2 linked regions of the Homo sapiens genome follow. The protein of the gene in region 1 purifies or fractionates together with the protein of each later gene. This does not show direct contact. Each region holds a gene or a part of one and is shown on either strand. Other genes may lie near its edges. The genes, in order: CIMIP6 and NEK9.

Region 1 (3,822 bases):
TGTGTTAGGTATAGTGATTTAACATTTAGATGGAGATTGCTTTTTGTGAGCTCTCTTCGTACTGATGACATCTGTTCTTGTCATGGACAGCACACCATGGCTGTGAATGTCAGATCTTCTTGGGGCAGGAATTCCTGTGGTTAAATGTTCTTTAATTTCATGAGCTAAACCCCTTTAAGGGCCATATTGAGGGTACTTCATTTTGTACACTTGCTTATGCTCTCGTACCAATTATTTCAGAAAGAAATCAATTGTTATTGTTAGACCAGACCTACACTGGGGAAATTAATTTGGTACCAAAATCCAGATTAGTGAAGTTCTTACATTTCTTACAAAGGCTCATGAATGACTCTGAGCTCTAGTTCAGGGTTGAATTTAAAACTGTTCACTGAACTCATCCTTACATTGGCAATACTAAGAAAAAGAAGCTGGTTTGAGAATAGAAATATGAAACATAAAAGTTTAAAAACTTAATCCCAACTAATTTTCTCTTACTCCTACTCTATAGGTATGTTGGAAAAAAAATGAACAAAGGTGTTAAGAGCTGCTATCATCAAGACTAGGTGACAGAATAGTAGTAGAATCATTATTAGCACTGGACCTTTAAGAGATGGTGAAAGTGAGTTTGAGATGAAATAAGAGCTCAGATAAGGGAATCTGTCAGTGAATATGAATGAGGAGAGTTACAGAGAAAGACTGAAGATACATCACTGAGTTACAAGCATGTCTGATTTGGGTGTGGCAGGAAGGGAGTGTGTATATTTTAAAAACATAGCCTGGGCAACATGGTGAGACCCCATTTATACAAAAAAATAAAAATAAAAAAATAGCTGGGTGTAATGGTGTACGCCTGTGGTCCCAGCTACTTGAGAGGCTGAGGCAGGAAGATTGCTTGCACCTGGGAGGTCAAGGCTGCAGTGAGCTATGTTCATGCCATTGCACTCCAGCCTGAGTGACAGAGTGAGACCCTGCTCAAAAGGAAATAAAATTGGCTGGGCACAGTGGCTCACACCTGTAATCCCAACACTTTGGAAGGCCAAGGCAGGAGGGTAACTTGAGCCCAGGAGTTTGAAACCTTCCTGGGCAACATAGTGAGACCGAGCGCTACAAAAATAAATAAATAAATAGCCAGGTGTGGTGGCAAGCCTCCGTAGTCCCAGCTACTTAGGAGGCTGAGGCAGGAGGATGGCTTGAGCTCAGGAGTTCAAAGCTGCAGTGAGCAATGATTGTGCCACTGTGCTCCAGCCTGTGCAACAGAGCAAGACCCCATCTCTAAAAACAAATTTTAAAATAATAAAATAAAAACCAAAAACAATGAACTTAAATGTACTCATTTCTAACTATCCAAGAAATAATAAAGAATGTATATTTCACATATTTGTAAACTGTTCCTTTAAGATGACAGGTTTCTTTTTAAAGGTTAGCCTGGTTAAGAAAAAAACTGGTTGACGGTAATGCTGTCTTTATAATAAGAGTAAAGAAAATAAACTTGCCTAAATATTTTAAATGACACCTGTTGTTTTAAGTGTTTTTGCTAAGATAATATCTTTAGGATGCAAGACGAGATTGGTTGGTTTTATTTGTTTAGAAGATTTTTAAGATTTCGTACATTTCTACCTAGGAACATAAAATTGGGGATGCTAAAAAAAGTAAGTTGTTTTAGCTCAGTCACTTCCAAAGAAAACTGGTTTGATTGTCTTATATTTTTGGCTGGGTGCGGTGGCTCATGCCTGCTATCCCAGCACTTTGGGAGGCTGAGGTGGGCAGATCATGAGGTCAGGAGTTCGAGACCAGCCTGGCCAACATGGTGAGACCCCCCCCCATCTCTACTAAAAATACAAAAAATTAGATGGGCATGGCGGTGCGTGCCTGTAGTCCTAGCTATTTGGGAGGCTGAGGCAGGAGAATTGCTTGAACCTGGCAGGCAGAGGTTGCAGTGAGCCAAGATCGTGCCACTGGACTCCAGCCTGGCAACAGAACAAGACTCCATCTCAAGAAAAAATAAAATAAAATAAAATAAAAATATTTTTAAATATTGGTACTTTAAAGGAGATTATACTAGGTTGGTATTTTCAAAAGTTTAATTTTCAGAGCACTGACCCTTGCCTACATGCTTAACAAAATAAATTTGCAAAGTCAAATATGTTTTGGAAAAGCTGTATTTTTATAAACCTTTCTCAGAGCTTCACAATTCACATTGGTATATAAAGGTTCTGAGAAATCTTGTGATAAACTTATTTAACTTTGCTTTTCTCACTATTTCCCAAAGTCATTTAACTGTGGACTCCTTTGTATAACACCTATTAATATGCTGGAGAACTAGTGTTCCACAGAACACAATTTTGGAATTTTTTATGGGGGGGTGCATTATGAACTGCTTAAAAACATTTTTTTAAAGCACTCATAGCATCTATAGCAAAATAGAGATGAATTTAGGTACAGTGTAACCAATGTGACCTTAGCTGCCCTAGTGTTTGTGATAGTACTTCAATTTTTTAAAGCCACTGAGCTCTACCAACAAAATGCGATTGTTTATGTTTAGGTTTTGTCAAAAGCCCACATTTCCTTGGGAATCCACAAAGTATGATTTTATGTTCCACAGATGACCACCACCAGCCATCTTGGCTACGCGATTGTGGCTGTGGAGCTTGGCTTACGACCTCTTGCATTCACTTAACTAGTTCCTCTAGGATACTTCACTTGCTTTTTACTACTTCTCCTCTGAGGATTCTCCCTTAATTTCTCAAAGAATGGAAAATAGGTAATCTTTACTAAAACATCTCTGAGAGCTTAGGGATACTAGGAGTATAACATAGAGACTGCCTTACACTGGCTTCCAAATGTGACTAAGGGACCCACAGTGCAACAGCCCTTGGCCTTCCCAGAGCTGCAGGTTAGAAGGAGCCCCGTCATCCGGAATCTCCAGGCAACTCCTGACCATGGAACCCAGTGACTATCATCCTGGGGCAGGAAAGAAGACAGTCCTTAGACTGGTAGGGATAACTCCTCTCTGGGTCCAAAGTTTGAGTTAGGCAAAACCCCCTCTACAATCTGCAAGATATGATCTGTTCCCCAGAGCCTAGACAAAGCCATCACGCTAGGTAACTTCCCAGCTTATTTTGTCATAAATAACTGTGTTAACCCCCCACAATCCAATGTAAGTGATGGTACACAGAACAGTAAATTTTTTGTTAGTCTTTCCCTTCAGTATGATACAAAGGTAAAGACGAGGCTCCATCCATGTCTTTCCTTAATCTCATAATCTTTTATGAATAAATGCTTGGACCAAAAGGGCACGCACATGTTGCATGGGCACATAAGCACTTTCACTCTTCCAGGAACAAACCAAACTTTTTAGGCATAAGGAAGACTATCCAGAAACAAGAAAGACAACCTTTTTTTTTGGACTGTAAGATTTCACTCAGCTAAAGTGAAGATGCATCCAATTTATAACACTCATCAGAACACTTTCACAAACTGCAGAGCCTTAAAGTCACCAGTCACATTTTAGGAAAAACTGTTCTCTATTTCCTTTATGTTTGTGAAACAAAGACTATTTTGGCAAAATTCTCAGTTTAAAAGAAATTTGCTCAAAAGATGAAATTATCTCTCTGCTCTAAGGCTAGCTTTGCATTATGCTTTTAAGAAAAAAATATAGCCAGGCGTGGTGGCTCATGCCTATAGTCCCTGCTACTCAGGAGGCTAAGGTGGGAGGATCACCTGAGTCCAGGAGTTTGAGGCTGCAGTGAGTTGTAATCGTACCACTATGCTCCAGCTTGGGTGATGGAGTGAGACCCTGGCTCAAAAAAATAATAATAACAA
Region 2 (3,822 bases), on another chromosome or scaffold:
TTCTAGGCTTTACTGATGAATTAACAAACTGAACTCTAAAATTTTTGTCTGTAAAATGACTTCAGTAGTACTTGGCTACTGAGGAGACTCTTCCTAGATCATAAACATGGTTTAACCTCAGGGAGTGAAAATAATATTGCTCATTACTTTCCTTTCCTAGTGATATCAATGGAAAAACTCTTGGCTGCTTAACCAAGAAAATAAAAGTGTTGTTGGGGGGGTATCCACGGTAGGGGCTGAATTGGTAGGGAAGAATCCATCCATAATTTTTTTTACTTCTTACCTATGAAGGATTCCAGCTTTATGGATGCAGCTCACTGCTGAAACAATCTGAAATAGGTACCACACCACCATCTGCAGAGAAAAAATAAATATTTGGATTAGAAACAAAAAGCTCCATTTAAGTAAATACACACACACATAAACAAACAAAACAAAGAAAACTGCAACCAGAAGTTATGATTCAACATGACTTGACATCTCTTCCTTGCAGGTTGAGTAGGCAAAGAAAAGTGAAGGGGTAAAAAACCACAAAAAACAGGTTCCTCATAAAATAGTTCCAATGTCATTATAATATATAGTATGGTAAAGCAGACATGTAGGAAAATTCAGGAAGAATGCAAAGTTATAGAAAACTGGGCATACCAGTACGCAGTAATAGAACCAGGAAAGAAAGCCCACAGAGAATCATGATGTGGAGGTAAAACGTTTAGGAAGCAGCTATAGACAGCTTCCTTGTTAGAGGTTTCCTTTCTCATGAATATCAGAGCCTGGAAGGAGTCTGAACAAAAGGAAAAAAACACTCTTCACTATTGGAAGAGTAAATACAGAACTAGAATGCAAGAATTACAACACTACAATTCTAACTTCCTTCCACAGAAATATGAATTACCTCTTCCTCAAACAACTTGTCCTTCTGACGAAGGATTTTGTCATACAGGTTCCCTCCTGCAATTAAACAAGACACAGATTTGAATTGCTTAATACAGATCAAAGCTTGGCTCCTGTAACAGGTTTTTTTAGGTGACACAAGGAAATGAAGGATTCTGCTTTCTCTCCATAGGCAACTACTTCTTTTGACTTTTCACATGGGCACAAAACTCTTCCCATCTCTCAAGGACCGCATCAGAAATATTCTTCAAAGATCTCCCTCTCTAACACAAGAGGCGTAATTAAAAAAAAGACATTTTTAGAAAAGATGTGAGTAAAGACCATTCTTGTTGTTCCCAACAAGTGAAGTATATTCAAAATCAGATTTCTTTTCTAGAACTCTCCTTTAAGGACTCTACAATATTTTTGTAACAACTCTCCCAGTTGTGACTACTATAACATCTGGATTAGGCTGGGCACATTGGCTCACGCCTATAATCCCAGCACTTTGGGAGGCTGAGGTGGGCAAATCATTTGGGTTTGGGAATTTAAGACCAGCCTGGGCAACACGGCAAAACCCTTGTCTCTACCAAAAATACAAAAAGTTAGCCAGCTGTTGGGGCATGTGCCTGTGGTCCCAGCTAATCAGGAGGCTAAGGTGGGAGGGTCGCCTGAGCGTGGGAGGATCGCCTGAGCCTGGGAGGCGGAGGTTGCAGTGAGCTGGGATCGCACCACTGCACTCCAGGCTGGGTGACAGTGAGAGTCTATCTCAGGAAAAAAAGAAAAAAATTGGGTTACACCTGTGATGCAATGTTTTGTATTTATAGGGTATATATTGACAAATTTTCTACTTCACACCGAAATATTTCCCAAAATTTAGGGTCTACCCCTAGACTGTTTCCTATCATTACTCTCTTTACTAATTTCTTCCTGTGGAATAAGTGTGAATTTACTTCTCTCTTTCCTTTACCAAGTAATACAGACTGCAAGTAATCATGGTTCATCTTACATCCCACCTGCAACTATAACTTACACTTTAGCCCTGGGTAAGTTTTTACAACTTCTTTTCCCCTGCAACTTAATAACTCAGTTTCAATAAATGTATCATTTGTTCCAGTTCTTCCTAACCACAAAAGAAGTTAACTACCTAGGGCTTCTGCTACTTCGAAAATTTTTAACAGAATCTTGTATATGGCATTGATCACCAATGATCATAATATACAAGAGTTTACACAAGGAAGTCGTAAGTGACGAATATGCTGGGACCTCTTTAGCATGCAGTTCAGAAAAGGGCTTTGGAGGTTCTCCTGTGCAATAAGATGATTAACAGCTAGTACAGTATGTAGCAAACACTTTCTACCTACCAAGCACTATGCATGTAATACAACAATCCTAGAAAGTAGGTACTGTTATCAACAAACTTTTTTTTTTTGAGATGGAGTCTCGCTCTGTCACCAGGCTGCAGTGGCATGATCTCCACTCACTGCAACCTCCAACTCCCTGGTTCAAGCGATTCTCCTGCCTCAGCCTCCCGAGTAGCTGGGATTACAGGCACGCGCCACCATGCACAGCTAATTTTTGTTATTTTTAGTAGAGACTGGGTTTAACCATGTTGGCCAGGATGGTCTCGATCTCCTGACCTTGTGATCCTCCCAAAGTGTTGGGATTACAGGCGTGAGCCACCACGCCCAGCTTTTTTTTTTTTTTTTTTTTTTTTGAGACAGGGTCTGGCTCCATCGCCCAGGCTGGAGTGCAGCGGTCTGAGCTCACAAGCTCACTGCAACCTCTGCCTCCCAGTCTCAAGCCATCCTCCCTCCTCAGCCTCCCAAGTAGCTGTGACTACAGGTGCACACCACCCAGCTAATTTTTTGTATTTTTGGTAGTGACAGGGTTTCACTATGTTGCCTAGGCTTTCCTCAAACTCCTATGCTCAAGTGATCTGCTTGTCTTGGCTTCTCAAAGCGCTGGGATTACAGGTGTGCACTGTCCCTGGCCAACAAACTCATTTTAAAATGACAAAACTGCTGGGCATGGTGGCTTAAGCCTGTAATCCCAGCACTTTGGGAGGCGGAGGTGGGCGGATCACCTAAGGTCAGGAGTTCGAGACCAGTCTGGCCAACGTGGCAAAACCCTGTCTCTACTAAAAATACAAAAATTAGCTGGGCGTGGTGGCGCATGCCTGTAATCCCAGCTACTTGGGAGGCTGAGGCAGGAGAATTGCTTGAACCCAGGAGGCGGAGGTTGTGGTGAGCCAAGATGGCACCATTGCACTCCAGCCTTTACTCCAACAAGAGTAAAACTCCATCTCAAAAAAAATAATAATAATAATAAAAATAAAATGAGGAAACTGAGGCACAGAGAAGTTAAGTTTCTTGCCAAGGTTATAGAGCTAGAAAGTAGAGAAACTTGGTTTTAGAGTCTATTTTCTTAACAACTAGGCTATATTGCTATCTTACAAGCAAAATGATGTGAAGAAATCAGGGACCAGATAAATAGGGCCATGCTTTACTATATATTACTTTCACTCAGTTATGATCTTTGGACCACTTTTCAATAGGATAGCTTTAGCTGAAGACAATATAAATAAATATCACCTATAAGATCTTATTAAATACTGTATCAAGTGCTGCCAAGCCACACTCTGGTTAACTAATGTCATTTCATAAAGAAAAACCTTGAAAAATAAAGGTAAAATCCAACCAAAGAAAAGATAGTTTGAAAATGGAACTGTAATCACAAGAGAAAATTTGGGTATGCAGGGGAAAATCCCTCTCCTTATTTCGTACACCACTTCAAAAATTCTCCAAGGCCTGAAAAGTTTCTCTTAAACTCTAGAAATTCATTTAAAGTTTTTATCACTGTATATGTCTCTTCTTATATTCTTCTCCTCAACGTAATTATGAGTCTAAGAAAGTCTTGCTGGAAAAGTCCCACTGAACTCTATCTTACCAT

The links.
Region 2: the proteins of CIMIP6 (region 1) and NEK9 purify together in Homo sapiens (affinity purification with mass spectrometry; one large-scale study listed by BioGRID and IntAct). This does not show direct contact.

The regions. Positions count from the first base shown.
Region 1 is NC_000002.12:54,337,162-54,340,983, forward strand, and holds part of CIMIP6 (ciliary microtubule inner protein 6), read left to right. Parts: intron 1-3,822.
Region 2 is NC_000014.9:75,120,227-75,124,048, forward strand, and holds part of NEK9 (serine/threonine-protein kinase Nek9), read right to left. Parts: coding exon 3,820-3,822; intron 949-3,819; coding exon 893-948; intron 355-892; coding exon 284-354; intron 1-283.